Linked DNA regions of Homo sapiens: all the other regions are linked to region 2. The links come from fine-mapping of genetic effects on gene expression. A gene starts in region 2. Each other region holds a variant in brackets. All regions are shown on one strand. Distances are between the middles of the regions.

The links. PIP is the estimated chance that this variant, and not a neighbour inherited with it, causes the effect. A credible set is the group of variants that fine-mapping cannot tell apart.
Region 1: its variant is the best candidate, but not a certain one, in a credible set for the expression of CAMK2D in whole blood (INTERVAL, PIP 0.70).
Region 3: its variant is the best candidate, but not a certain one, in a credible set for the expression of CAMK2D in fibroblasts (GTEx, PIP 0.89).
Region 4: its variant is the best candidate, but not a certain one, in a credible set for the expression of CAMK2D in whole blood (INTERVAL, PIP 0.76).
Region 5: its variant is the best candidate, but not a certain one, in a credible set for the expression of CAMK2D in whole blood (INTERVAL, PIP 0.84).
Region 6: its variant is the best candidate, but not a certain one, in a credible set for the expression of CAMK2D in whole blood (INTERVAL, PIP 0.58).

Annotation. Positions count from the first base shown.
Region 1 is chr4:113,806,414-113,811,517 of GRCh38, forward strand. No RefSeq gene overlaps it. Among named protein-coding and RNA genes, the nearest start is that of CAMK2D, 47 kb to the left of the region's middle. The variant C/CAA (reference allele first, on the strand shown) is at 2,799.
Region 2 is chr4:113,759,352-113,764,455 of GRCh38, forward strand. It overlaps CAMK2D (calcium/calmodulin dependent protein kinase II delta), which reads right to left and starts at 2,387. Exons shown (of 21, transcript NM_001321571.2): 1 at 1,653-2,387; 2 at 1-63. The coding sequence starts at 1,717. RefSeq lists a silencer at 2,174-2,583 and enhancers at 2,577-3,115, 3,116-3,654.
Region 3 is chr4:113,416,201-113,421,304 of GRCh38, forward strand. It overlaps LOC105377374 (a long non-coding RNA gene), which reads right to left. Exons shown (of 5, transcript NR_199847.1): 2 at 4,131-4,283. It also overlaps the pseudogene RN7SL184P and the pseudogene RNU1-138P. Among named protein-coding and RNA genes, the nearest start is that of MIR8082, 270 kb to the left of the region's middle. The variant G/A (reference allele first, on the strand shown) is at 2,095.
Region 4 is chr4:113,820,710-113,825,813 of GRCh38, forward strand. No RefSeq gene overlaps it. Among named protein-coding and RNA genes, the nearest start is that of CAMK2D, 62 kb to the left of the region's middle. The variant A/G (reference allele first, on the strand shown) is at 2,284.
Region 5 is chr4:113,448,422-113,453,525 of GRCh38, forward strand. It overlaps CAMK2D (calcium/calmodulin dependent protein kinase II delta), which reads right to left. Exons shown (of 21, transcript NM_001321571.2): 21 at 2,611-5,104. Among named protein-coding and RNA genes, the nearest start is that of MIR8082, 300 kb to the left of the region's middle. RefSeq lists an enhancer at 3,868-4,415. The variant ATTAAT/A (reference allele first, on the strand shown) is at 2,190.
Region 6 is chr4:113,859,990-113,865,093 of GRCh38, forward strand. No RefSeq gene overlaps it. Among named protein-coding and RNA genes, the nearest start is that of CAMK2D, 100 kb to the left of the region's middle. The variant G/A (reference allele first, on the strand shown) is at 2,210.

The sequences.
Region 1 (5,104 bases), 47 kb after region 2:
CTAAGAATAAGGACAGACCCAACTCTGTTCCTGATATAGGGTCTGAGATGGCAGCAATGAAAACCTGCTCTGTTGCAGCTATCTTAAGTCTAGTTAAGCACAGAATAAAGGAGCCAGTCAATTCATTTGCATTTTATTGTCAAATGTCAATATTTCTTTTATGTGTGACATAATTAAGAAGGGAGTGTGTATCTTCTATATGTTTTATTTACTGTGATTATACCTAATGCATTAGAGTAAGTGATCAATCAGATGTATGACACCTATATCCACACTGTCTTAAAAGAATTAAAAGTCCATGTCAACATCAATAACTAGTATTGTGTTAATTAGATGAATGGGAGGTAGTGGACTACAAGTCTGACACTTGGCCTGTAATCTTGACCATTGTCTAACTGTGTCCACAGGGACAGATCAATTGACATCTGTAAATCTAATTTTTCTCAGTATAAAACAAGGGTATTAGGCTCATTTAAAGAAATGTTTTCATCTGCTCTATAAAGCTATGTGACAGCTGATAATAGGTTTTTACTACCAAAAAGGAAAAAAATTACATAGTCTGTCACTGCCTCACAGCTTTCTAGATCACTGTAAGAAAAATAGAAAGAACATTGAAATATTGGACCTGAAGTCAGGAAATAGAAAATGAATCTCAGTTCTATTCTTACTAGCTTTGAGATGATGAGAAAGTCACCACACTTCTTTAAGCTTTAATTTTGTTCTCTTTAAAACTTTTACCTCTAAAAGCACTCACTTCAGAGCAGGATCCCAAAAATTGTTAACTCAATCTCAATACAACATATTTACAAGTGAAAAAATGTATTCTTTTGTATTTCCCCCCCTAGAAGGTTTTTGAGGAAATTTACATCATCCTTACCAGCTTTTCTACTCTTTACTAGCTTAATTTATCATTATGGATAAGAATTAGATTCTACCTCTCTTTGATTTAAGTCTCTAAATCTTCACATTTTCAAATTTGGTGAATATTTCTGGTATCTAACTTTTCCCCTCATGTTATAGCATATTCAGTGAGATGCATCATTTTAGGTTACCCATTTTTCCCCTGTAGCAAACTCAGGACTACTATTGCATGCAATTTGTATAATATAAGCTTTGATACATGCAATGTTCATTTTTTTAAAAAATCTCTAACTAAAAGCATGTTAAAGTAAATTAACTAGCAGAAACTTACTACAAATGTGCTGGAAGCCAGGATTGCAGCAAGGAAGTTGATGGAATTGTTCCTTTGGTTTAGGATATTGGCTGCTCTGCGGACAAATCACAATTTCTGTCTCTCATTTAAATTCTTGTGAGATAATCTGATTGGTGTCACTCAGCCAATAGACTGGATGCCCTTCAGTCAGAGTCCAACACTGGAATAAAAGCTGAGATCTGGGTGGTGGAGTAAGTGACAGAAATAAGGCTGTATGAGATGCCCAGGAATAGTTGGATGGGACGGTACCTAGAAAAAGGGGCCATGAATAGGAGTATATTCTCTGAGGAAGGAGTTCAGCAAGTTATCATGTCTTTATGTGCCCACTGTCATGCAGTGCAACATGAAGTTGAAATGTGTTTATAGTTTACCCAAAGCTAAAAATACAAGGATGCTAAAAATGATAATTGTAGACTATTTGTGATGTCTGGATTGCAAATTTCAACTCTGACTACATATGTTTTAGAGTTTAGATAGCAAATTATTTCTTACTGTAATGATTCTATGTTCTGCCATACATGTGCCATTAATGATTATATCTTCCACATTTATTTCATTTCATCATGTAAGAAATTGGACACATATACATAAATTTCTAAGTTAAAATTTATCTGAGACTTTAAGGTCTTCTGTCTTTTTTCATAGGATTTATTAATTTTGAAGAAAGCATAAAGTACTTCAAATTTAAAAGGACATGGCTAAAAAACTAAATGAACTATATGTATCTGAATTATTTCTTAAACCAAAGGCCAATTTAAAGTGATAGTCTAAGTTGAATATATTACTTGCATTTATAATTTTACCAGTATTCATATATATGTGCATCTAGTATCTGTTTGATTTTGAAATATAGGGAAATAAAATGAAATTGATTTTTTTAAGTGTGTAATAATATGCCACTCCAAAATAAGCCACTTTGGCGTGAGGATTATTTTGAGCTAAAGGCACCTAAAAAACAGCAAGTACAAGAAGGTCACTCTGACCTCCCCTTTTTTTTCCCTAAAAGCAGGAGACAGAACTCCCATATAGAAGATATTCTCATCATTCTAGAAAGAAAATAACATTCTCATTAGCAGAGATGGGGACTCAGAGTTGAGAAAAATCTGTACAAACAAACCTTGTTAAACTAACCCTTATCTTCCTAGTTCCCTTTTCACCATTAACTACCCTAGCCCAAGTCCTTCATCTTGTCACATTTTCGTAATTTACTACTCAGTGTCCAATTCAATATAGAAGCATTCAACTCTAACTCCTTCTTTGGGTCTTTATTTCCACATGATGGCTTCCATGTCATGTAAAACTAAAATTTATACTCAGTAAATGTGTATACTTTTCTCCTGTTATCTATCTTATGTCAATTAATTCTCAGGCCCAGCTGAAAACCCTAAAAAGGTAGAGATAAAATTTTTGCCTTCACTAAACTGTTTTTCTAAGGATGGTTGTGTAAAAAAATTTTTTTAAAATTATATGTGTGTATGTATATATATATATGTATCTCCACAGTTTATCACCAAAATGTTGGCTTCCATTATCCAATTTAGACGTGACCTAAATAACTCCAATCAAAAGAGCAAAAAAAAAAAAA[C/CAA]AAAAAAAAAAAACAAAAAAACCCCTTCTCAAAGAAAAAAAAAAACTAAAAAAAAACTTTTCTCATAGCTACCAGCTAACAATGATGGCAACATTTTGCCTCCTGTGTTGCCCTTTAAAAGGGCAATAGAAAAAGGCGTTAGAGTGAAGGAAGAAAGCTTGCTGCTGAAAGACAGGAATGCTGCTTACTGTAAGCCTGGACAGCCCTAGTTTTCTCCATTCCGGGTCATGCTCTGAAGTGGGGCTGATGGCGAAATGTCACATCACCAGAGTACCCGCCTAGGGGAAGTACACCATGCTCATCACCCCATCAGAAACTTGGCCATTCCCCAAACTAGCATAATCTTAGTGAGGCATTTCCTGGGCACAAAAGTGTCTCATCTGCCACACCAAATTTGCAGATGCAATTTTTCCCCGTGTTTCCCTTGAAAAGAGAGTAGTAGTTATGAAAGCCACCAAGAAGCATAACATTCCAGGGAATATATATTTTTTCACTCAAGTGCTTTGAAAAAAGGTCTTAAGGTGGGTGAATTTAGGAAAAACTATTATATGTCAGAATAAATTATTACATGAATCAGAACTCAGAGCATAGTGTCCGAATTACTACTGTTAGGTATAATTGTTACAGATTCCAAGTTTAAAAATACATTCTAATTTATTCCTTTAAAAAATTTTTTTTACATAATTCTTTGTGACTCTTTTTTGAGAAAAAAGAAAAGATCTTTTCTGCCTTTAGAGTAATACATAACAGAAAACCTTTTGATAGTTTTGAGAAATGGTAAGCATAATATCCAAATTACAGCAGTTCTCATTATAATGGCACTGAATAATCACCTCATTAGTAGTGATTATCTTGATATTAACAGCAGTTCCCGACCTACAGATTTTTTTTGGCAAATGTTTAGTATGATTTGCAACAATGTGCAAACATTTTTTACTATATATTTTTTTACTTCTCAGTATTGAAGGAATTAGTTGGATGAAGATTTATGAGATATTGGATAATGTGAAATGTATTGACTGTCAGGAATCTTGTTTCAAGGAACTGCACTCCTTAGGAGTATGTGTGTGTGAGTGTGTGTGTGTGTATGCGTGTTTGTGTGTGTGTGTGTGTGTATCTTTCTTCATCATTTATTTTCTTGCATTATTATATTCTGAATCAAATTGCATTCTGGAAATGAATACTAGCATTAGGAGAAGCATTGCATTTTGATGGTGAATGATTTTGCAGAAATTATACACGGTTGATGGTAACTCTGTCAGTATTGTTGAAGTGTTTTCCTATATTTAAAATTTTAAGTTAGCAAATATTGAGAGTCAGAAATTCCTTATCCTCCCATTTTCCACTGTGTGTTTGTTTAAAACCCTCACTTCAATAATCCAAATTTCCCTTTGTTCATTGCCATGAAAGGAATAACTTGATGAACAAAATGAGCCAACATTTTGTCGACTAAAGACATTTTTCCCTTTTTGTGTGCCATCATTTTTCTTAATTTAAATAACAAAGCCATTTAACTGGATACTTTTTAAAATTGAGAGATAAAAAGCACTATTTATTAGCTTTAAAAAGTATTGCTTAATTCTTTATCCTCGTCTAACAAAAGATGGCTCTTTTGCCTTGGTCAATATTTTAACACACTTCTTTATTATGTTATTATTTGTGATCTGAATTAAGTAAGAAATTTGCAAGAAGAAAAAACCTCAGAGGTTAAAATATTTGATTGTTGCGTTTTGAACACATTTTAAACATGCTAGTTGTTAGAAGCAAAAATCAAGAATCAAACCTTTATTCTTTGAAAACTACTTAAAATAAAATGTTTTTATGAGTCAAATTAGTACTTTGGAAAGGACTCTGGAATGCTTACATCATACATAAACCACAGAGTCATCGCCACATTGGTTGAAATGAATACTTATTGTGTGGAAAGTGTTTTGGAACAAATGTGTTAGAAAAATGCATTTCAGGGAGATAGCTGGCAAAGCAACTTAGTGTTATATAATCAGGACTTCTCCTTAAATGCTTTTTTATTCTACCTATTCTATTATATAAAATCTAAAAATGTCTCTTTGAAGAACCAATTCATTATATTTCCTTTTATACTTCTTTTGGATATAAGATGACAAGAATATCAAAGTTCTTGAAAATAGGGAACATCTCAAACATAGCTCTTTAGGTGGTTTCACTAAAGATTAGGTAACATTCTGCCAACTTCAGAAACCCATCTGATTTAGAAAATCATCCCATGGCAGAGTAGTCTGTATTCATGATGACAGAATTCTCTGAGCTTCCCTTTCACACCTTCTGCT
Region 2 (5,104 bases):
TTGGCAGCATATTCTTGTCCAGTAGGAATTTTCATACATCTTCTCACCACTGAGAATGCCCCCCTGGAAACCAATAATTAGCAGGTCATTAATATAACAGATATAATATTTCATTAAAAATTTATAAAATCTGAGCATTTTTATTGATTTTAGTGGATTGCCAGTGAAGTACAGTAATATCCAGTAAATGAACAATTCTTCCTGGAAACCCAGACTTTCTTTAATGTTGAAGAATAAAAGTAAATTTTATTTAACTGGGAGCACACATTATTAATCAACAAAATGAAAGGAACTGCCAATTATGACCGCTCTTGTTTGCACAAGAAATTTGAAAACATTTTACAGTTCACACTCACAGCACCAAATGCTCTGAGAAAAACCCTGCACAGAACAGAGCAGACGAGGAGCAGCAAAAAAATCTGCTGCCTACTTATTTTGGTAGGAAACAAAAAATTAATGTGGTTCCAAGTAAGTAAACATGACGATTATTTTCATTAAAATATAAATCTTGAGCACATTAGTGTGGTTTAACAAATCCTGGTATGGTGATTTCTCTATGCCTTGTTTTGGACTGGGGGAGGGGAGAGATTTGAATTAAGCTGCTCTTCCGACATATTCTCCATGTTTTAACACCAGACAATATATACATATGTAATTTTTATTACTTTTAAAAATATTTACCTTTCCTTTAATTACAGTATAAACCAACAACATACATATAAACGCACTCCTTTCATAAAAGTAACAGTCGAAACTAGTGAAAGAGGAATTGGGTTTGGGTTCCATGCTACAAAAATCAGCATTCACGGCTTGGCCCCTAGGTCCCTTTGCATAAGTCCTCAGTAGGTCTCCTGCCTCCTTCCCTAACATCTCCAAGTAGTTCTGCCAGTCGGGTGAAGGAGGTGGTTTTACACAATGCTAGGCTACGCTTAAGAGCGCTCTCAGTCTCCAGAGGGCTTTTCCGTTGCCTGTATAAATAAATCCTCCCAGAGAACGCAAAGATGCACACGTAAATCCTAGGAAGAATGATGGTGAGCGGTAATCTGGTGCAAAGAACAACACTGGATATAGGGCAAGGGGTTGGGTTCTGTTGGGTGGCCCTTTTCCTGGACAGAACAACTACTGGATGCGAAATAGACTCTATGCCAAGTTGAACTTTCGGCATCAATAAATATGGCACCGTCTGAGGCTGTGAGTTCTCATCAGTACCTGGGTCATACGGCCGACACGCCGGCTAACCAGGAGGCATCTCTATTTACAGAAAACATGATCTATGTTGCATTTTACATGGGTTCTAATTTCCTCTCCAAACACACATTACACACAGGCGCGCGCGCACACTTCTCAGGATGATAGCTACAACTGCAGAGATCGTAAATTCACTAAGTCTCTCAGTGCAGGAGGGTGGGGGACCGGGAGAAGGTGGGCTAGGGACCATCAAAATGAGCCACAGTTGGAGTAAGGGTCCTACCCCTTCTGTGCTCCCTCCCTTTATTAAGACAGCACCTTCCCCAGAGCTGACAAACCAGGGGCCCTCCTCCCATTCCTCTCCCAAACTCCCTCGCCCCAAGACGGAGGCCGGTGGGTCGGGGGCAACGCGACCCGCCCTCAGCTGGAAAGGGGATATGCGGATGCCGGGCAAAGGTGCTTACTTTCCAAGCTCCTCGAAAAGCTGATACTCGTCCGTGAACCTGGTGCAGGTTGTGGTCGAAGCCATCCTCGGTCCGGGCTGTGCCCTGGCTGGGAGCGCGACGGACCAGAAGCGAGCAGACGCGCGGCTAACCCCGGGACTGGCCCCGCGGCGCTGTCACCCAGGGCCGCTCTTACTTTCCTGGTCCGAAAGTAGCTCGCCCGCGAGGGAGTGTGCGCAGGGGCGGGGCGGGAGGGGAGATGACCAGAAAGGGTGGCGTGGGGTCTCCTCCCCACAGTCCGCCGATCCTCCTCCTCCTGCGGGCCTCGCTTCCTTCTTCTCCACTGGACGCTCCACCCGCCCCTTTTCCAGTCCCTGTCCCCAAATGCAGGGGGTAAAGTACTCAAGAAGAGGGGGCCGGGAAATGGAAAAACAGCCAGGCACGGGACGAGTGGCAAGCAGTTGCGAAACGATCCGCACTGGAGCAGGAGGAGTAGAAGCAGAGGGGAGGGAGTCCGAGGGGGCGGAGGTGGAGTGCAGCGGGGCCGAGGCCGCGGAGCCCAGAGCGGACAGCCTGAGCCCAGCGGCCGCTGTCAGCAGGCTCAGGCGCGGGGCGCGCCGGGGCTCCGACGAGCGTGCGCGCCCGAGGCCGGCTTCCCTCCGGCGGGCGGCAGCGGCTCCGGCGAAGCGAGGCACCTTGGCGGCCTCGCGCTGCTCACGAGCCCGCGCGGCTTCAAGACGGCGCGGCGAGAGAAAGAGCGCTCGGCTCAGGCGAAGCCTCTTCTGCCGTCCCCAGGCCTCCGTCTCCTCCTCCGGCGCCTCCTCCCGCCGCTCCCTCCGCCTGCCAGCACCCCCTCCCTGGCGAAGCCCCCTCCTCGCTGGTCCCACACCTCCCTCTAGCGACTCCAAGCCTGTCCCTTCGTGGATCTCTCGCACTCCCTCCTTTGGTTGCACACACGAGCACACCAGTCTAGGGAGAAACCAGGTGGGTGGAGGAGGATGTGCGGGGGAGAAGACTGGAGGTTTGGGTGAATGAGGCGAGAAGTCACAGTTACCCATTTAAACCCGCACAGAGAAGGCTGCCTCAATCTGGGGCTGACTGAGCGGGAAGATGCAGGGCAACTCGAGGATGGCCCGGGGCAGCCGCCCTGGGTCGCGGAAGCCCACGCCCCTGTTTTGGGCGCCGGGCAGCAGGGACTTCTCCAGGCCGGTTCCCGGGCCACGACACCCGGTGGGCCGAGCAAGGGAGAGCAACCACTTCATCTCCACGCCGCTCAGAGTTGACACAGCAGGGGCCGGATGTGGGCTGTTCACTGCTCTCAGAGAAGGGTCCCAACCCTTCCCACAGCCACCAGCGACTGTCGGGGCAAAACCCAGCCTCAGCAGGGTTCACTGCGTCGCCAGCTCCCCAGAACCGGGCGCAGGTTTTCTCCCTCCCCCGCAGCCCCTTCTGCAAGGGGCAATGACGGCCCCTGAGCCACATTACACTTGCCACCTCCAGGCCCACCTCCCCCGCTGTTTTCCAGGATGGTGGCTGAGACTCTGGCAATCCCCAAAGGCCTTTGCTTTGGCTGTGAACGTTAAAAGAATGAAAGCAAAAACTCCGCCGCACAACCACACCTTCCCTTCCCTTCTGAGTAACTCCCCTGCAACCTCAGTAAGTTCTGATAGTAAGGCGAATTCTCGCGATATTTCCCACTCTGGCGGTCAGGGGGAGGTAGTAGGAAGGCTGGGTGTCGGTCACGCGACCCGGCGGGGGCTGACGTCATTCACATCACGTGAACACGTCTAGACTGTTTCGCTTTGCAAAGGGAAAAAAGAAAAGGGGCCGTCGTGTGTGCTTTTGCTTTCAGCCAGATAGTGGCAATTGAGTGCACTCCGTAAATGGCTATCTGGAAAAACCATTTAGCAGTTCAAGAATGTGTCCTTCCCTTTAGCATATCTGCCATTGTTTTCAGTAGGAGGAAAAAAAAAGTATGCATTACGATTTAAAATAGATAAACTGCTGCCGATTGCTAGAACAACTTCTGGGCCCTCTTTCCAGTTCTCCTTAATGAAACTATGCAATTGCAAATTTAGCCGCAGACCAAAAACAGCGTTATGGACGGTCTTTTTCAAATTACTGCCAATTGTTCTACAGCACGGGACTATAAAAACCTTGCAATCCTATTGCTAATTTGCTCGTGGTATTACTTCATAGACAAAATTTCACAGCTGAAAGATAAAAGATAATTTGCAGACACAAGAGAATCTAAGATTTAAAGGCGCTGCTGCTTGCTCCCAAAGACTGCTATTAATTAATGTTACTTTGTGGTCATAGATAATCCTAATTCCTTTTTTCCTGATCTGGGGAACGCTTCTGCCAATGAGTGAGCTTTTTACTGAAGTACTAAAAATGTTCACAAATTTTAACGTTTATTACAACAAAATTGAAGTTCGTATGTGTTTTGATTCCCAGCCGTAAAAGGCAAGAAATAACTGTGTAAAATGTAGTGCTATAGAAAAAGATGATACCAAGAACTGCATAAAAGAAACATGGTCTCTAAATATTAATAATTGGGCTATAAATTGAAAAAAAAAACACAATTTGGTCTTGGCTAAAGATTTGTAATATCTGAACTATTTAGCAATGTGGCTCCAAGGTGATAATGAAATAATTTAATATTTTTCCCTGAATCTAAGAATGAAACAGAAAAAGTAAAATTAAAACAATAAAGGTAATATAAAAATTTACATCTGGGAAGAAAATTGTTTCTTAAATATTCAAGTAATGAAGTCTACATAATTACAGTATTTATCTCAGTTATTTAAACTACCAATAATTGTAAATGGTTATAATTGTGGAGTACAATAAAGGAAACATAACTGAGTTTTAATACTGATGTATTATTAGACAATAAATGTGTACATTTTTTACAGCAAACACTGCTTAATCTGTACGTACCCTTTCTTTGATTTATATTTTAGACTAAATATTTCTCTTATTTGAACAAATATTTACAGTTATTTCTGAAGTTTGAACCTCCTTAAAAAGTAGTCAGATTAGCCGGGCGCAGTGGCTCACGCCTGTAATCTCAGCACTTTGGGAGGCCGAGGCGGGTGGATCATCTGAGGTCAGGGGTTCGAAACCATCCTGGCCAACATGGCAAAACCCCGTCTCTAATAAAAATACAAGATTAGTCGGGCATGGTGGCATATGCTTGTAATCCCAGCCACTTTGGAGGGTGAGGCAGGAGAATCGCTTGAACCTGGGAGAAGGAGGGAGGTTGCAGTGACCCGAATTCGCGCCACTGCACTCCAGCCTGGGCAACAAGAGCAAAACTCTGTCTGAAAAAAAAAAAATAGTCAGATCAAAGACTTTGTTGTTGTTGTTCTACTTCAACATCATTTCAGGAATAGCTACAAAATAGAGATAAATTCTAAAAAGTGTAGAAATGTAGACCTATAAACATAATAACACTGGATGTTAGTGCC
Region 3 (5,104 bases), 340 kb before region 2:
TGTCCTTTCCCCACTTTACGCTTGTATTTGCTTTGTGGAGATCAGTTGGCTGTAAGTATTTGGGTTTATTTCTGGGTTTTCTAATCTGTTCCATTGGTCTATGTGCCTATTTTTATACTAGTACCATACTGTTTTGGTGACTATGGCCTTATAGTATAGTTTGAAATCAGGTAATGTGATGCCTCCAGATTTATTCTTTTTGCTTAGTTTTGTTTTTGCTATGTGTGCTCTTTTTTGGTTCCATATAAATTTTAGGATTGTTTTTTCTAATTCTGCGAAGAATGATGGTGGTATTTTGGTGGGAATTGCATTGAATTTGTAGATTGCTTTTGGCAGTATGGTCATTTTCACAATATTAATTTTACCAATCCATGAGCATGGGCTGTGTTTTCATTTGTTGGTATTGTCTATGATTTCTTTCAGCACAGTTCTGTAGTTTTTCTTGTAGAGGTCTTTCACTTCCTTGGTTAGGTACATTCCTAAGTATTTTATTTTTTTTGCAGCTATTGTGTAAGGGGTTGAGTTCTTGATTTGTTTCTCAGCTTTGTTGCTGTTGGTGTGTAGAAGAGTTACTGATTTGTGTACATTAATTTTGTATCCCAAAATTTTGCTGAATTCTTTATCAGTTCTAGGAGTTTTCTGAAGGAGTATTTAGGGTTTTCTAGGTAAACAGTCATATCACTGGCAAACAGTCACAGTTTGACTTCCTTTTTACCAATTCGGATGCCCTTTATTTCTTTCTCTCGTCCTATTGCTCTGACTAGAACTTCCAATACTATATTGAAGAGAAGTGGTAAGAGTGGGCATCCTTGTCTTGTTCCAGTTCTCAAAGGGAATGCTTTCAACTTTTCCTCATTCAGTATTATGTTGGCTGTGGGTGTTTCATAGATGGCTTTTATTACATTGAGGTATGTCCCCTGTATGCTGATTTTGATGAGAATTTTAATCATAAAGGGATGCTGGATTTTGTCAAATGCTTTTTCTGCATTTATTGAGATGATCATGTGATTTTTGTTTTTAATTCTGTTTACATGGTGTATCACATTTATTGACTTGCATATGTTAAGCCATCCTTGCATCCCTGGTATGAAACCCACTTGATCATGGTGGATTATTTTTATGATATGTTGTTGGATTCAGTTAGCTAGTATTTTGTTAAGGATTTTTGCATCTTTTGCATCTATGTTCATAAAGGATATTGGTCTGTGGTTTTGTTGTTGTTGTTGTACCTAGGTGATGTTCTTTTTGCGTTGAATTTCCCAGATGTTCTTTGAGCTTCTTGTATTTGGATGTCTAGGTCTCTAGCAACGCGGGGGAAACTTTCCTCGATTATTCCCCCAAATATGTTTTCCAAACTTACAGATTTTTCTTCTTTCTCAGGAATGCTGATTATTCTGAGGTTTGGCCATGTAACATAATCCCAGACTTCTTGTAGGGTTTGCTCATATTTTCTTATTCTTTTTTCCATGTAATTGTTGGATTGGGTTAATTTGAAAACCTGGTCTTTGAGCTCCAAAGTTCTTCCTACTGTTTGTTCGATTCCATTGCTGAGACTTTCCAGGGCATTTTGCATTTCTATAAGCATGTCCATTGTTTCCTGAAGTTTTGATTGTTTTTTATTTATGCTATCTATTTCATTGAAAATTTCTCCCTCGTTTCTTGTATCATTTTTTTGACTTCCTTAAATTGGGCTTCGCCTTCTGCTGGTGCCTCCCTGATTAGCTTAATAACTAACCTCCTGAATTCTTTTCCAAGTATAGCAGGGATTTCTTCTTGGTTTGGATCCATTGCTCGTGAACTAGTGTGATTTTTTGGGAGTGTTAAAGAGACTTCTGTCATATTACCAGAGTTGGTTTTTTGGTTTATTCTCATTTGGGTAGGCTCTGTCAGAGGGAAGGTCTAGGGCTCAAGTCCTGTTGTTCAGATTCTTTTGTCCCATGGGATGTTCCCTTGATGTAGTACTCTCCCCCTTTTCCTAGGGATGTGACTTCCTGAGAGCCGAGCTATAGTGACTGTTATTTCTCTTCTGGATCCAGCCACCCAGCAGTTCAGCAGGCTCCAGGCTGGTACTGGGGTTTGTCTGTACAGAGTTCT[G/A]TGTTGTGAACTGTCTATGGGTCTCTAAACTGCGGATACCAGCACAATATTTAGGGTGTATTCTGGGTCCTGCAGGAGCAATCTGCTTCCTTCAGAGAGTCTATGGGTTCTCTTGGCTTTCCTGATTTGTTTCTGCAGTTGTTCTGGAGCAAAAGTTCACGATGTGAACCTCCACATGGTGCTCTGTCCATCCAAGCGGGAGCGCAATCTACTTCTGCCTCCCATCCGCCATGATCTCTCTCACATTTGCTTTATTGTATGGTTTGAAGGTGGCATTTAAGATAATCAAGTAATGTCTACTGAACCTGAAAAAAAATAAATGCCTGTCTGCCCTCTCTCTTTCTATTTCTTCCCTCCTCCTTCTTCTTTTTCTCCCCCTCTCCTTCCTTCCTCTCTCTCTCTCTCTCTTATCATTAGGTGATAAAGCAGGGTCTGTTTCAGACTCAATTAAAAATCATGAAAAAGATTTTTAAGATCTCAGGCTGGACAGCTGATAGAGCAAGGAAAAATAGGAAGGCTTCAATGCTGTAAGTAGAAGTGAACTGCATTTACTGAGGCCTCTGTTTAGAAAGGCTTTTTGAATGTAGTTGCAGGATATAAGAATCTTATAATTTGATGGGCAGTGGCTTCATATCTGAACTGTGTCAATATTTATAAACTGTACTGCCACACCATTGAGTGTTTTTTCTGATAAAGGCTTTTAACTGTCAAATATTACCTTGATTTGTCACTTGGCTTCAATTTTTAGTAGCTATGCTATGAAATGTGGATTTCAGGTATACCATCTCACTAATTATGGCATTCACTGATAACTTCATACATAAACATATAACTAGAACAGGGATCTGTATCTTTATCAGTGATAAAGATTATCTATTTCAGCCTGGGCAACAAAGTAAGACTGTATCTCTACAAAAAAAATTAATCAGCTAGGTGTGGTGGCATGTGCCTGGAGTTCCAGCTACTTGGGAGGCTGAGGTGGGAGGATTGCTTGAGCTCAGGAGGTCAAGACTGCAGTGAGCTATGTTTGTACCACTGCACTCCAGCCTGAAAGACAGAGTGAGAACCTGTCTCAAAAAAAGAAAAAAAGATTATCAATTGATATAAAAAACTCTCATAGCCCCTCTCTGACAATAACTTTTTAGAAAACCTTTTTACTTTGGAAAGAATTTTATATATGAAAACTACAATGTCTGGGGTGAAAATATACGGGATGGGATTAAAAACACATTAGACACTACAGAAAAAACAATAAGTGAACTTATTGAAACTATACAAAATAAAGCCCGGAGAAAAAACTGAAAAAGTATTGAGCAGTACATCAGTGTGTTGTGAGCGATTTAAACGGCCTAATAAACATGTAATTAGAATCCCTATACAAGGTATAAATAGGAGAAAGTTTAAAAATATTTGAAGAAATTATTGCCAAAAATTTTTCAAATTTGTTGAGAAATATAACCCACAAATTCAGTGACTCATGAACTCCAAGCACAAGAAACAGAGAAATACATGAACATGCATCATAATCAAGTTATTAAGAACCAAGCCAGGCCTGAGGGCATGTACCTGTAGTCCCAGGTACTCAGGAGTTTGAGGTGGGAAGATTGCTTGTTCCCAGGAGTTCTGGGCTGTAGTGCACTATGCCAATCAAGTGTCCACACTAACTTCAGTATCAGTATGGTGACCTCCCAGGAGCAGGGGACCACCAGGTTGCTAAGGAGGAGTGAACTGGCCCAGGTCAAAAATGGAGATGATCAAATCTGCTGTTCTCATCAGTAATGGAATCACCCCTGTGCATAGCCACTCACTCTAGCCTGAGCAACATAGCAGGACCCTGTCTCAAAAAAAGAAAAAACCAAAAACGAAAACCCAAAACAAAAACAAAAAAATGATAAAGAGAAAACATTAAAAGCATCCAAAGGAGTGGGAAAAATACATTATATATACAGGAATGAAGAAAAAATGACAGCAGATTCAGAAATAATCCATGCCAGAAGACATTCAATCAGCAAAGAACTGAAGAATACTATACTTACCTGGCAGGGGAGATACCATGATCACATAGATGGTTTTCCCATGGCAAGTCTTATCCATTGCACTCTGGATGTGCTGACACCTGTGATTTCACCAAATGTGGGAAACTCAACTGCATAATTTGTGGTAGTGGGGGATTTTGTTTGTGCTTTCCCCTGGAAAAAAAAAAAAGAAGAACAACACTAGAAATGGTAAATAAGAGGGTAAAAATGAAATACACTTTTTCTTATTTTGAGTCTCTTTAAAAAATCATTGGCTGTTTAAAATATGTTGTTTAGTAATAGTATATAATGGAATTCATAGGGATTAGTGAAATAAAATGTATAACAGCAATAGCACAAAGGCTGATGGATGGTGGCTGTGGGGGCAGTGGTGAAAGAAAGTTTACTGTACCTGAAGTGGTATAATATTACTAGGAGGTAGACTATGATAAGCTAAAGATATATACTATAAATCTAAGATATAGATATATATCTAAAGATATATACTAGAGATATATGCTAAATACTATAAAGACATATACTAAAAAGATATATACTATAAATTCTAAAGTAACTGTTAAAGATATATACTATAAGTCCTAAAGTAACTACTTAAAAAACAAATAAAAAGTTATAGTAAATAAACCCACTAAGAAGATATGATGGATTCTTAAAAAATAATAATCCAAAAGAAGTCAAGAAAAGGAAGGGAACAAAAAACAGAAGAAACAACTAGAAAACTAATAGCAAAATTGTTCATTTAAACTCAGTTATGTTGATGATTACATTAAATGTAAATGGCCTAACTACCTCCAACCAAAAGGCAGAGATTGTATAAAAAAGCAACCCAACAATAAGCTGTCTATAAAAAATTTACTTTAAATATAAACATACAAATAGAGTAAAATAATGAAAACACATGATGCTAATAATATTTAAAAGTTAGATTTCTTATATTAATATCAGACAATGTAGATTTCAGAACCAAAAATATT
Region 4 (5,104 bases), 61 kb after region 2:
CCCTGTTGGCTTTACATTCATGGATTTTAGTCCTTCTAGAAGCTGTGTTGCATTCAGCAGCCTTGTTCTTTGAGATAACTTATAATCCTGTAATATAGTCCTCATATTTCTAATATGTTCTGAGCTATTTTGTGGTTTTCAGTAAAGTAAATTTAATGTATATTCTAGACCTAACTAGGGCAGGACAGGCTCAGGAAAAATTAGCTCTAGGGCTTAAGCATGACAAGATTTGAGAGTTAGGTGAATAATTTGTAATCCTAGAAGATAAAACAAGCAAGCAAACAAAAAAAAAAACCCACACACCTCTTCACGTGGTTATTAGAAATTTGGAGCATTGGGTGCGGGGAAACACCATTTAAAAAAATGGAAAAAGCACTCCATTGATGATGATTATGGTAGTGATGCTATAGATGATGAGAAGATGCCATGTACTAAGAACTAAATATTTGCCAGATAGGGAATAAATATAGTGTACTTCACTGAAGCATCTGTCAGTCTCTAAATTATCCCCTTCACAAACTCACAAACGCAGTAACAAGATGGACAGATTCCAGTGAGCCATGTTTAAACATGACCTCTCCCCTACATCCACATCTGATGGGAGTATTTATTTATTAAACAGATATTTATTGAGTACCTATCATATATGGAGTGGTGAACCAAACAGATAACATTTCTGCTTTTTTGGGGCTTTTGGCAAAGATAGGACGGTAAAGATAGAATGAGCTAAGGTACTATGCTTGATGCTTCCAGGTAGATTCACCCTAACCCTCCAAAGTAAGTAGTGGTATTCTTATTTTACAGAGAAGAAAGCTAAGCTCTCTTTCCCTAACCAGGGAAATTAAGTTGCTAATAACTAGAAAGTGAATAAAGGGCAAAGGCAGCTGTATCCTAACTCTGAGCCTTTCTGAAGTCTGTGATTATCCTAGTTGCACCATTTATGTCCCATAAGCAGGACACAGAAACATTTAGCTGTGATCTATGGGCTGGAAAGTGACAACTACTGCTGCTGCTAGGATAGGAAGCTTGGCGCTGGACACCTCAATGTACAGCTGGACTGGCAAAGCACTAAACATGTCCATCACCATGTTTGCTAGGAACGGCAAACTATGAAACCTAGAGATGGTCTCCTCCTCACTTCTGTCTTCCAAATTTTGCATAAGTACACCTTATTGTCAGCACCTAGTTTGCACTTAGAACACCAACTGCAAAGGAGTCTGGGGAAATGTAGCTTTCAGGTTTCCAGCCTCCGAATGAATGATAGCACACCAGGAGGAGGGGAGAAATTCTTAGCAACCCAGTGCTTAGTATTTGGCATCCCATTACATTAAGATGCCTTGAATATTTGCTTAGAAATGTGATATTTCATACTGGCAGGTTTGGACATGCAGGGGTTTGTCTGGTGTTGTTTGGGATTTTTCTAGGTTTTGAGTCACTCCACATGTTTTTGCCACACAATTAATTACTTGTACCATTTCAAATTAAAGGAGACTTTATAAAGAGATACCTATGTGCAGACTCAAGAGCGGACTGAAATACCTGGGAGTCAGAAGCCTAAAGTTTGTGTGTATATTTTTTTCCCTGCAGGTTCCCAATAACTGTGTGTCACCTTCAACAAGATCTCTAGCCTCTTTGGGTTTTTCAGCGTTTTCTCCACTGTAACAAGAATAATGGCTCTCGCCACTTCTCTGCCTCTAAGGGTGTTGTCAGAATTAATGAGACATCAGGGTGAAAAGCTTTCTACATTTTTTTCCCCTCAGAGAATGCTGGAAAAAAAAATAGAAGTAATATCTGTATTTTGTGAAGAACTTTTCTTTCTGCATGTCTTCATAACATTTAGAAAAGAGTTTACAGATTTTTTTTTTTTTGAGCAATGGCAATTACCATAGGTGTTACATATAATAAGGGAACTTTATCTGTCAAGAGAAACAAAGGAGAAACTAAAAACTTGAGTCAGAGAAAGTATGCTCCTGGCTTACTCTTTAATGGAATGAGTAGGAGGGCTGAGAAAATCACAAGTAAAATATTACTGTACAGAGAGCATCTGAAAGTAGGAGGAGAAACTACTTAATTAAAGTTGCCACCCTCAAAGTAGAAAAAGAAAAGTGATACTGACTGCTGACAAGTTGCTGAAATGCCTTAGATATACTGGAGAGAGAAGATGAAAGTTGGAGGTCAAAATCTTTGTGCTTTAGGGTTAAACTGCTCAGATCAATGATAATAATATCACTGATCATTATGTTCCATTGGAAGTTAAACTCTAACGAGTTAAAAATGTTCTCA[A/G]CCATTTAATTAATTATTCAATGAATTGTTTGTTAACATAGGCAACAAGTACTATATCAATTCTCTCACTTCAGTGGAATGCAATACTCTGGATTCTGATGGGTGTTAATGCTGTCAAACATGCACATCTTAATAAGATTTATTCTTGGCCATCTGTAGATAATGACTTTCTAAATAAAGCTGTTCTTGGAGACAGAAAATATTCAACTCTGATATTTATAGTACTGTCCATATTTATAATCAAGTTGCTTTTTTGTTTAGAATCCTTTGTTTTAGGATGTTAAGCATTTTGGAAAATATTGTGGGGGCACATATAATTATTATTTCTTTAGGGTAAAGTACAGCTAAGCAAGGATAGGCCAAATGTCAAAGAGTGGTCCAGAAGTCAGACTGAGAGTTCAATTTCCTCACCCACTGACCGCACTCACTGAATGCCTCTGAAAAACCATGACTAATCACTTCTTCTTTTCAAGTATCTTATGAGGATATCTTTCTTAAAAGTATTTTATTCAGTTTCAAAAGATTTTTTATTACCTAATGCCTTTTCTCTAACTCAAAACAAATAGTACTTTTCAGTAATCGTTGCCCTTTTCACATCAATCCTTCTCCACATTGGTTGAACAATACTCTTTGGGAAAAAATAAACTGGATAGTACAACATATAGTAAGTTGAATATATAATATCTTCTTCTAATAGGTCTTCACATTTTTGCATCAAACTTGTTGTCTTAAATTCAACATCTTCTTTTGAGTAATAATACTTATGAATAACTTATGGAAAACATTGTTAAAGGTGAAAGTATCATAGAAACAAGAACTCCAGGGCATTTAAATATATCGCGAATGAGGCTTTATAAAGACTATGAATGCTAATTTGTATATCAAATATAAACAGGGTTACTAGTGAAAACAAGGTCCAAATAGGGTAATTCAAAATAGCATATTCATATCTTTTTAAACATCCCTCAGAAAACTATATTTGAAGCAATCAGGATAATCTACATATTTCTTACAAAAATACATTTGTTTTACAAAGAGCAAGATGAGCAATTAAAGTAAAACTATTAAGGATGTTGTAAGTGTCTGGGGCTAAGATTTCAGAATTAGAGTTTGGGATTAAGAAGCAATTTCTTGCATACTAAAGTTGTAAAGGTGTCAATATGAATGTGTGGCTTCCTTGAATAGTGCTCATGTATGCAGAGATCGGTGTTGATAATGCAACTATTATCATTTTTGTGATTTGGTTTGGAAAGGACAGGAAAGGATAATTGTATAAGAGAAGCAATGGTACAAATCAAATGAAAATTCAGATGATCAGCCAGGTCCAAGATGCATGGAGAATGAAGACAGAAACTTGTGAAAGTTTTTGTTTGTTTGTTTGTTTATTTTTAAAAGAGGGATTGATATCTGAGGAAGACCAAGTTACTGGAAGTCTTCAACTTGGAAGTCAAAGAATAAATAGGAAATATGTTTATAGAGAATGTTAGCTAAAATTTTCAGACATTTTAGTTTGCAGGGCATGACAAGATGGAGGGTAAAGCTGTAAGAGTGGGTAGTTGTGAAAGAAATGCAAAGGGAAATTATTGCATTAGTGATCTATTGCTGTGTTACAAATCACAAATTCAGTGGCTTAAGACGATATTAATTATCTCACAGTTTCTGTGAGTCATGAGTCCAGTTACTGCCTAGCTGGATTCTCTTCTTAGGGTCTTACAGTGCTGCAATTAATGTGTTGGCTGGAGTGTGTTCTCATTTGAGATTTGACTGTTGAGGAATCTATTTCCAAGCTCACTCGGATTACTGGAAGAATTTCCTTGCAGTTGTAGGATTGAGGGCTCTGGCCTCTTGTTGGTTGTGAGCTGAAACTGCCTTGAGCTCCTACAGTCAATTCTCATCATTTAGAAGCTATTCGCAGTTCCCAGAGGTCACCTGAAGTTCTTTGCCATATGAGCTTTCCCAACATGGTTTCTTACTTCATCAAACCAGCAAGGAGACATATGCTAGGGTGCCATCCCATCATCTTTGCCATAATCTGTTGGTTAGAAGTAAGTTACAGGCTCGCCCTGTGATTAAAGTTGGGGCGGGGGGTGGATTACACAAAGATGTGAATGCCAGAAAATGGGGATCATGAGTTCACCTTAGAAGCTGTACACCTCAACTGATAAGAGAAAAACTCTCAATATAGTATGACTCTGAAGTTTTCCAACTTAATAGAATGAACCAGTTTCATTCTATTTAGTAATGCAGGGCATTTAGTAAATGCAGGGCAATCACTAAAAAATAACAGAGTACAAAAGTTGACATAGCTGTCTAGTCTGAATCTAAGAAGAGCAGATTTTTATATTTGACTGGTGGAATAAGGCAGGAAACAGCATTTGCCACAGAAAACGAGAACTTAAACCAGGGCTCATGAAACTTGAAAGAATCAGCAGCCTCCACTGCAGAGGCTTCAGGGAAACTGTGGTTAGAACTAAAGAGCAGAGAGATTATTTTGTGAATAGGTTGATATGTGACACATGTTTTTTACCATGGCATGAGTTAGAAAAGCCAGTGGGAAAATGAGATGAAGGACAGCAGAGGGGAATGTAACTTGTAAATGTAAAAGTAGCTTGTGTTACATTTCCATCCATTTCCAGTTCATAAGCATTTTCCTCTATCCTTTCTGTTACTTGTTATATATGTGTCTCTTAAAAATAGCAGGCCTGATGTTTCTGAATCTTATGGCCCTTTAATTATTTGAAGACAAGTTTCACATCTTCTCTCTTTCAGAAAAGGTGTTGTGAGAAAGAGGCTTACTTTTAGTCCAGCATTAAAGGATTTT
Region 5 (5,104 bases), 310 kb before region 2:
ATGTAGATTTCCAATAGGCAGCTGAATATATATGTTTGGAGTTTAGGGGAGTGATCTAAGCTGGAGAGATATGTTTAAGAATCATTAATATAATTTGAAGCCATTGAGATTAGATGCAATTACCCTGGGAGAGAATGAAGATGAGTTCCAAATTTAAAAGTCAAGCTGGGCATGGTGGCATGTGCTATAGTCCCAGCTACTCAGGAAGCTGAGGTAGAAAGGTCACTGGAGCCCAGTTCAAGGCTAGCCTAAGCAACACAGCAAGACCTTGTCTCAAAAACAGACAGAAAAAAAAATAATGAAAACAAAAAGTCTTCCAAATGTAAAAGTCAGGTTGATGAAAAAGGACCAGTCAGAGACTGGGAAGGAGCATCTATAAAGCTGGGAGGAAAATCAGGCAAATGTATTGTTTGAATGACAAAAGAAGAATGTTTAAAGATTGAGACAATGAACAACTCTGTCAAATGCTGCTGAGAGATGAAGTAAAAATGAGGACAGAAAATGGATCCTTGATTTAACAACATGGTAGTCATTGGTGACTTAGAGAACTGTTCTGTGGAGTGGTAAAGGTAACTGGAGTGGGTTTAAGAGAGAATGGGAGGAGAGAAATTTCAGACAGCAGTTTAGGCAAGGCTCTCAAGGAATCTGGCTATAAAGAAATGGGGCACTGGTGGATACAACTAGTATGGAGGAAATTATTTATAATGACAAGGCAAGGTGAAGAGAGTTGCTAGAGCAATACTTGTGAGCAGAGGTGGTGGCCTTTGTTAGGTGCATGACCTATTTACAAACAGTAATAAAAGAGATAGCAGGGTGCATACACAGAGATGCAGAGATTACTTCATTTCTTGCAGTGAAATAAGCAGCAAGGTCCTCACCTGAGTGAGAATAGGGGAAGAAATATTGGAGGTGGGAAAAGTAAATGAAGTCTGAAATAGTTGACAGAAGACTGGAAGAGAGAATGGATTAGGGACATATGATTTTTGGGCAGCCTCTGGGGCTTACCTGAGGCAGGTCAATGGCCATGAATATATAACAAGACCTGTCAGCATAGGTGCACGTTTTTCCAGCTACATTCAGCCTTAGGATTATGAGCATGGCCCAAGCAGATAAGAGGATGTATCCATGGTTGTGAGTTTCCAAGAGTGTGAGAAAGTCCAAGGAGCAAGTGAGTTAGGTTCTACTAGCCTTGTAAAGAGCTAACTTAGATTAAGCCCAGACTACATTATGTGCTAGCAATTGAGTTAGGCCATAGTGCAAACCATTATATCCCAAAGCAGTTTCTAAACATCTGGTTATAGATAGAAAGTTACTATAATTTGTATAAGTATTTCACAATTTGTCCTGGTCCTGCCTAGAGACTCAGCAATAAAAATTACCCAACAGTTCTTGGCCATTGAAGACTTTGAAACTAGGACAAAATAAACTCATTTTACTGTAAAATAGCTGCAGATCTTCCTTTAAGAAATTAAATAGTACCATAGAAACACTTTGTGCTTTTTTTTTTTTTTTGTAGACCTTGATTTTCTTCTTAAAACAAAGTAAAAATAATGACAAGCATTTTAGTAGCAGGGGCCCAGCAGAAGACAGCTGCCTAAGTAGCATGGTTTTAGGGATGCTGAGAACAATCCCTCTACAAACCAATGCCCATACCTGTTCACTGGGGCCTGAGGTGCCAACAGAGGTGCCCTTTGGCTTTAAGAAAGGGGTCAAAGCTGGCTGGGCGCAATGGCTCACGCCTGTAATCCCAGCACTTGGGAGGTCAAGCAGGTGGATCACTTGAGCTCAGGAGTTCGAGACCAGCCTGGCCATGTCTCTAATAAAAATACAAAAATTAGCTGGGTGTGGTGGCATGCACCTGTAATCCCAGCTACTCAGGAGGCTGAGGCATGAGGCTTGAACCCGGGATGAGGCTGCACTGAGCCAAGTTCGTGCCACTGCACTCCAGCCTGGTGACAGAGTGAGACTGTCAAAAAAAAAAAAAAAAAAAAAAGAAAAGAAAAAAAGAAAGAGATCAAAGTCTTCAGTGTCCACAGGAGCCAGCAGCAAACTCATGGGGCAGATGTGAAGTATGTGTGTGCCTGGTGGGGATAGGGGAGTGCCTGCTCCCTTCTGAAACAGGCAGCAGCTTCTCTGACTGCTGCTGTAGTGAACACAGAACCAGTGGGGCAGACCTTACACTTTTTCAA[ATTAAT/A]TAAGCCAGAAATCTTGACTTTTACATGACATATCCAATTTTTAAATGTTGGTGACATTTAAAAAAACATAAAAACACTTTTTACGGACAAACAAGAATTTTTTTTTTCTGTTGTAAAGCAGCAAAAGCCTAAATGCAAATCCTTCTGGAGTACAATTACTGCTTAATCTGTTATCAACTTTTCCTACTCCAGTCTGCAGGAGAACATTCTAGCTCTCTTCTGAGAATTGGTTTTGTCTGAGAGAAAAGCAGGAATGCTGTAAATGCTTCCTGCTGCTTTCTCAGGTTAGGGTGGTTTATGACAGCTGTTGTTCAGTTCATGGACACATGGTCTAGTACGCTGATCTTCATTGTAATCTTTTTGTACATTCTCACCTTTAAAAAATCTGATAAAAAGACCACAGAGCCATGAAAGGTTCATAGAAGTCAGTAGAATTTTATTCAATGAAATCACTCGAAAGCTGTGTCATCTATGTTTACCCTTAAATTATAATTTTTTACATAAAAATTCAAAATTTGGGTGAAGATTAATATTCCTTGAAAATTTCCTTAGAATATACTGATTTGCTACTACATTTCATTTTTCCTACATTCAGCTAGATGACCACTTCATTTGGTGTCTCTCAGCCTTCTGCTGAGACATTTGAGTCCGAGTATATCCTCAGCATTAACAGTAAACCTACATAAAGAGGGCAGCCCAACAGCAAAACAAGAGTTGTATACCCTCGTGAGCAAAGAATAATAACAATAGGAATATTAATGTCAGTGATCAGAATAGTTATACTGCTACCATTTAATTTCTATCAAATATCATTCTAGTCACTCTGTACCCATTAATCCTCACAATATCTTTATTAAGTTGGTATGTTTATTCTCATTTTACAAATATGGAAACTGAGGGTCAGAGGGAAGAGGTAACTTGCTCAGAGCATCAAGACAGTGGTGAGAGAACCCATCATTAAAACAAGGACTATCTGGGTACCCCTTGAGGCTTCTGTTATCAAAAGGGCTTGGCCTCAATTCAACAACTATTTATCAATGATATCTCCATTCCTGGCCTTGGTTTGGGTTTAGGAATGCAATGATGAATACACAGTTCTTGCCCATGGAGACATTATACTGCAGTAGAGGAGACACAAATAGAAATATATTTTCAAAACAATGTGGTTGACAGGAGAGGTAAATACAATCTATTATGTAGGTTTTGAGAGGGAAGGCAAGCCCAGAATAGGGCCTAGGAAGGTTTGCTGTGGAGCATGATGCTGTACACTGAATCTTAGGAAAAAGTAAGAAGTCGGGAAAAGAAGTAGGGGAAGAGACTATTTATTCTAGGTAAGAAACATAAACAACATGAACAGCATAAACAGGCATGTGAGCAAGTGTGATGTTTTTAGCAAATCAAAAGAAGCTGAGCATCCATGTATGCTCAAGTTCAAGCTGGGGAGTAGCAGGAGCTGGGGTGCTTGCCTGTATCCCAGAAATGATAACATCAAAGTGTTACAAGGACAGGTTCGTATTAAAAAAAAAAAAAAAAAGCAGCCATGTGAAGGCTGGATTGGAGGGTACAGTTTAGAGAAGCTTTTAGGAGTCTTAGTTGTTAACTATATTGTTCTCAGCAACATTTTCCCAGAAGAGACCATTGTTTTGCTCACAGAGAACAATTAACTTGCCATTCTCACCAAGTGCAAATTGTTATGTACTAAATGAGACCAGAGTAGGACACACTGCCCTTGACACTGGCCAGCACTATGCAGGCATACATACAGTACCTCTTCTGAAGAAATAAAGATGGACGCACTGTCAGCAGAAATCACAAATTTATTAACTCTTAAATATATCAATCAGTCCTTTACCATTATGGCAAGAAATATATACAGTGTCCCATGGTAAACTGCAGTGTTTCAAAATGATAGAAGATAATAAATGTGTAATTCATTTGTGGTGGAGAGAACAAATCACAATTTCCTCACATCTTAGTGCGGAAGACAAACTTGATCTACAGTAATACTTCAACACCACATGCTAAGTTAAAAGTGTAAAAAAAACACTCTACATCTATTTTTTTTTCTTTAAATACATGTATGCCACGTATAGCTGCTTCACAAAAGGGTAAAAGAAATTAAAAAGAGAAAAATGAGGCCATTATTTTTTCACAGATCTCATTGGCAGGTTAACATGGCTCAATATATTTACTGTATATATTTATTTTAAATATATATGTTGTTTTAAATTGTGTAATAATTATCAGAAAAGCTTCAACCCATCTACCATACATCCACTAGCAATAATATCTAAGATGATTAGTAATCAACACAGAGAGGTGAGATGAGAGAAAAGAGGAAGGGTTGTTTTTGTTATTTTGTTTTTCTTTTTTGCTTCTGCTTTAAAAATAGGCTTCTGAGGACTGTGAATTACTATCGTTAAAATAACAATGATGGAGATTCCATGCACTGTAAAGCACTTCAGGGAAGAGAACAAAAATCACAGGAATTGAATCAACAAAGGAAAAATGAGAAGCACAAAGAAAACCTAGGACATTTCCCTTTTTGTTTTAAACTGGGAAATTCTAACTCCTTGGAGGAAGACAATGATACTCTGATTCAAGAGAGAAGCTAAAAAAGCACAAGTCACAAAGATCAAGTTCAAAACACTTATGAGAATGGCAAACATTTGTAAGCCTCTCTAACACTAGAAAACTAGCTAGTGATGATGCAGAAGTGACCCTTTCATTCCCCAAGGCGGAGGTGAGTGCGTTTGCATAAAACCCCCTCTGCTATCAAGTTGGTATCCTCCTGGCAACTGTCCCAATCAGTAAGACGTTGCAGTCACAGGAGGAACTTGCTTTTATCCTAACTTTAAACAATGCAAATACCTCCAACATAGTTAGGATACCTAAGTCCAAACTAGAGC
Region 6 (5,104 bases), 100 kb after region 2:
TATGAACTTAGTACATAGCTAGTGCTTTCAAAAATGTGCACTGATTTGAAAACAAGAACACAAATGACTAAAATTTTAAAAGGCTATTTAGAAGGATGCATGACTGTTGCAAAGTAAGCATTGCTCTGGATCTCAAGTATGGAATATGAGATCCTTTGTATCTCAGGATAATCTCCTACTCAGGACCCAGAAAAGGGAGTAAGGGGAAAGTGTCTGTGGACCAACGTTATCTCTTAGGATTCATTGCTTTGTTTTTAATATTAAAAAAATACTTTCTCTGTTAGAGAAGTTTTAGGATCATAGCAAAATTGAGCAGACATTACTGAGAGTTCTCATAGCCCCTGCCCCCACACATGCACATTCTCCTCACTATCAACATCCAGCACCAGAGTGGTACATATGTTACAATCGATGAACCTGCATTGACACATCACTTTCACCCGAAGTCCATAGTTTACATTAGTGTTCACTCTTGGTTTTGTACATTCTGTGGATGTGGACAAATGTAGATAATATATATCCATTACTATAGTAGTATACAGAATAGTTTCACTCTCCTAAAAATCCACTATGCTCTAACTATTCATCCCTCTTTTCTTTGTAACCCTGCAACCACTAATCTTCCTACTAACTCTATATTAAACACTTAAAGAAAATCATGCCTTTCATATGGCTTAAAATACATTAATTCCTTCATTACTTTATTGCTACCATCTCTTCATTTTATTCATCATCTTATTTTACCTACTTTCTCTTGTTTAAAAAAATGACTCCAAAAGAAAAGAGAAATTAAATATTAAAAAATAAGAGTGTAATTATAAGATTTCTTTAGATACTCTCTACATTGATGGTTATCCATGTCTTGGTTGTATGGGGGAATTAGGTCATGTTCTTAGGTATTTTTGATTAAAGGGAGCTGTTTAAATTATGGATGTGTAAGAAAGTTATAGTTTCAAATACAAAATATATATTTGCATTACACAGGTTTAAAATGATAATTTCTCAAGTTTGGTATTAATTTTAATTTTTAAAAATATCATTTTCCCTGGAGAGGTAGAAATGGCACCTAGGTCCAAGGGGAAATTACTTTACAGAAGCTATGTAATTTAATTGGATTTGCTTTTAATAATGTGTGACATGAAAAGGTTAATTTTAAATGTTAAGAAGCAGTGAATTCCTTAAAGAATTCACTAAAAGTTAGTTTTACTTTACAAATTACTTTGCTGTGCCATCTTTCTTGCCTGAGGGTCATTTGGTACTGAAGGTTAGGCTGTTGGATATAAAATAAGAATGAGAAGGAATAATGTAACATCAAATAGAACAAAATTTCACATTCAAATGCTCTGACATAAATGAAACCACCATTTTACACAATTTTAGGTACCTTTTATTTTTAATATATCTTCAATTTAGTATATTTTAGTATATTTATTTTAAAATATTTTAAATTTAATGTCCTAAACCTAATGTCCTTTATTTTTAGTATATCTTCAATTTAGCATATTTAGTATGTCTAATTTAGTATATACAGTATATTTTCAATTTAATGTCCCAAACTTACACAAATTAATAATGTAGTTTAAAAGAAAGAAAAATTAGATTTAATGTCCTAAGAACAATTTTTACTTATTTTGTTTCATTATAGTGAATCCTTTTTGATTTAGCTTTCAGGAATCATTATTCCTAAGTGTGATTTTGAAATACTTCTTTCAGTTCATTTAGCTGTAAGTTTTAGACCTGATAAATGGAGAAATGTTTAACATTCCTGCTCAGAATTTGAATATATAGTACAAGTATTCTAATAAAGTAAAAAATAAAATAACCATCTTTTACGTTAGGTAGTTCACTAGTTATTGACCCAGTAATAAGTCATCTCATAAGTCAAATAGTTTCAAGGCCAGAACCTCAGTATAATTTATCAATTCATTTATCTGTCAAGTATTTATTAAATATCTTTTAATTCTTTACAAAAGTACACAATCCTGGCTCTCTTTTCCTAATTTTCAATATAAAGCTTGACTTATGACTAAATAGTAGCAGTGTCAGATAGGACTACACTCTCAGGTTAGGGATCTTTGTACTGTAAGAATTTCGTCCAGAATATTTACAGATTCAACTAAATTTTTGTAACAAAATACATCCTTTCACAACTACCTAAAATAATACAAAATGTGAGCTCTTGACACCTGTGAAGTTTAAAGAAAAAATA[G/A]TTGGTGGTTGCAGAAGGACTCAAATACAAACTGGAAAAGCCAAGACGGAGGGCTGCTCGGAGCTATTATTCGCTAGGTGAGGTTAGCTTGTAGAATGCAAACAGACTTCAATTCTAGTGGTTCTGTAACCAGGGGCAGCTCAGCTAACCTCTCTCAGTTTGTTTCTTTTTATGGGAACAGCAACCATCCCAGAGCATTTCTGTAGGAACTAAAAATAATACATGAAGAAGTTCTCAATGTAAATGGTCTTTATTCATTCATTTTGCACTTGATATTAATAAATATTTATTTACACCTTTAGATTAGGCACCAGGCTCCCATGTGCTAGTGAAGGAGGAAGGCGTGACTTCTCATTTAGAAATTTTACCATAATGGAGGAGAATGTTATATAACTGTTAGTTGCCCACTGCGATGGTTAAACTGTCTACTTGATTGGATTGAAGGACGCAAAGTATTGATCCTGGGTGTGTCTGTGAGGGTGTTGCCAAAAGAGATCGACATTTGAGTCAGTGGGCTGGAGAAGACGGACCCACCCTTAATCTGGCGGACACAATCTAATCAGCTGCTAGTGAATATAAAGCAGGCAGAAAAACTTGAAAAGGCGAGATTGTCCTAGCCTCCCAGCCTACATCTTTCTCCCGTGCTGGATGCTTCCTGCCCTCAAACATTGGATTTCAAGTTCTTTAGTTTTGAGACTTGGACTGGCTCTCCTTCCTCCTCAAGCTTGCAGACGGCCTATTGTGGGATCTTCTGATGATGTAAGTTAATACTTAATAAACTCTATCAGGATATATATATATATATAAAATAGGATATCTATATCTATAAATAAAAATAACTATAATCTATATCTATAAATAAACAGATATGTCTCCTGTTAGTTCTGTCCTTCTAGGGAACCCTGACTAATACATCCAACTTCATGAGTGGCTATTAAAACATCCCAAGAAAAAGAATAGGCAAAATTGTTTAGTATGATTCTATGAAATAGTGACATAGAAGTGGCATTTGTAGGTTTCACCAGATTTCCGTGCTAAGTTCAATCATTGTTGTTTTCATTTAATGTTTATTAACTGGATTTATAATATATTTTCTTTTTTTGTAGTACAGAGTGAAGAAAAGACTGAGATACTGATAATTATTTTGCAAATGCAGAAGTAGCATGATCTATAAGCAGATAGGAATTATATCAAGAGTGAGGAAATGTAATCTTTGATCATTTAAAAAATATTGGTGCAATCATAGATAATTAACTTAGTCTCCTTGTGGCATGAATTCCGCACTTGCTAAATAAACAGCTTGTCCAAGTTCATTTAATGAAAATCGTATCAACAAATATTTATTTTATAATATTCTACGCATTATGGAAAAAAGTAGAAGCCCCGAGTTTTCAGTCAAGCTAAAGAGATAAGAATTCAAACTATGAAATGAGATTTAAAAATGAGACAGAAGAAGATTTCGTAGGACAAGAAACATTTACTTGCCAATGAATGGTACATTCTATATGTGCTATAGGAACTAAAATGAGAAAAAGATTGATCCACATACTAAGAGTAGGGAAGAATTTATAAGAAATGTAGGGGGACTACTAAATCCTGAGAGATATAAACATTTGAATACATGAAAAATGTCAAAGTGAAGAGAATGTCTAAAGATACTTCGGGTCTATAAATCCCTTTAGGAAGTAAAAAAAAATTTCCAGTTCTCAACTAAATGGATAGACAGTACATGTTCCTTAAAAAATAACTAATCTTCTTCTAAAAAGTGCTGCCTAACCTGCCTTTAGGATTATCTCACATGCAACAAACAAAAGGACACAAGGATACCTACAGGCAAACACATACCATGTCATTTCCTGGTCAGATATTTAAGAATGAATGATGCCTTACGTTAGCATTTTATTGTTGTTGTTGGCTGGTCACTAACTATTTACTAAAGTCCTTCCCTTATTTGCAAATGAAATTATAATCTCTTAAAATATCCTTTATACATAGTTAGGAGTGTGGGTATTGATACTGCACCACCTGGGTTTAAATCCTAGTCTCACTACCTACAACAGGTATGACTTTGGATAAGTTACTTAACCTCTCTGTTTCTCAGTTTCTTCTTTAGTAAAAAGGGGATAATAATAGTACCTATTACACAGCGTTGTTGAGAGAATTAATTTATATATATAAAGTATTTAAAAGGGAGCCTGGCACATTGTATTATGAGTATGGGAGCTGCTTATATGATTTGATATGTGCGTGTGTGTGTGTATATATATATATATATATATGTTACATATAATATGTGTGTGTGTATATATATGTTATATATAATATATATGTATGTTATACATAGATGGTTCCTGATTTATGGCAGTTCAACTTATGATTTTTTGACTTCACAATAGGTTTATTGGGGCATTAAATGTATTTTTGATTTACGATATTATTGACTATGATAGGTTTATCAGGAAATAACTCCACTGTGAGTCAAGAAGCATCTGTGTACGTACACATATATAAATATATAAGTAAGTATATATTTAAATATATAAAATAAATATTTAAGTATAAATATATAACAGTTGCTAGCGTCTTTACGTATACAAATATATGTATATAAAGGGTGCTAGTAACTGTTAAATTATAAAATGATAATATGTTTAATCATAATTTTCAGTCATAAAATGATTGCTATTGAAGACAGTACAATGTTTACTAAGTGATAGAGAAGTGGAAATGAGAATCTTTGAGATAATGTTATTAGAAAAAGTTAAAATTGAAAATTGGTCCCAGAACACATTCAGTATTTATCTTATAAGTCATAATATGGTTCGCATTTTTTCTCAAAGCACTAGTGTTTCTGAAAGTCAGTTCTGTAGCCACTGGGATCACCTAATATGCAGA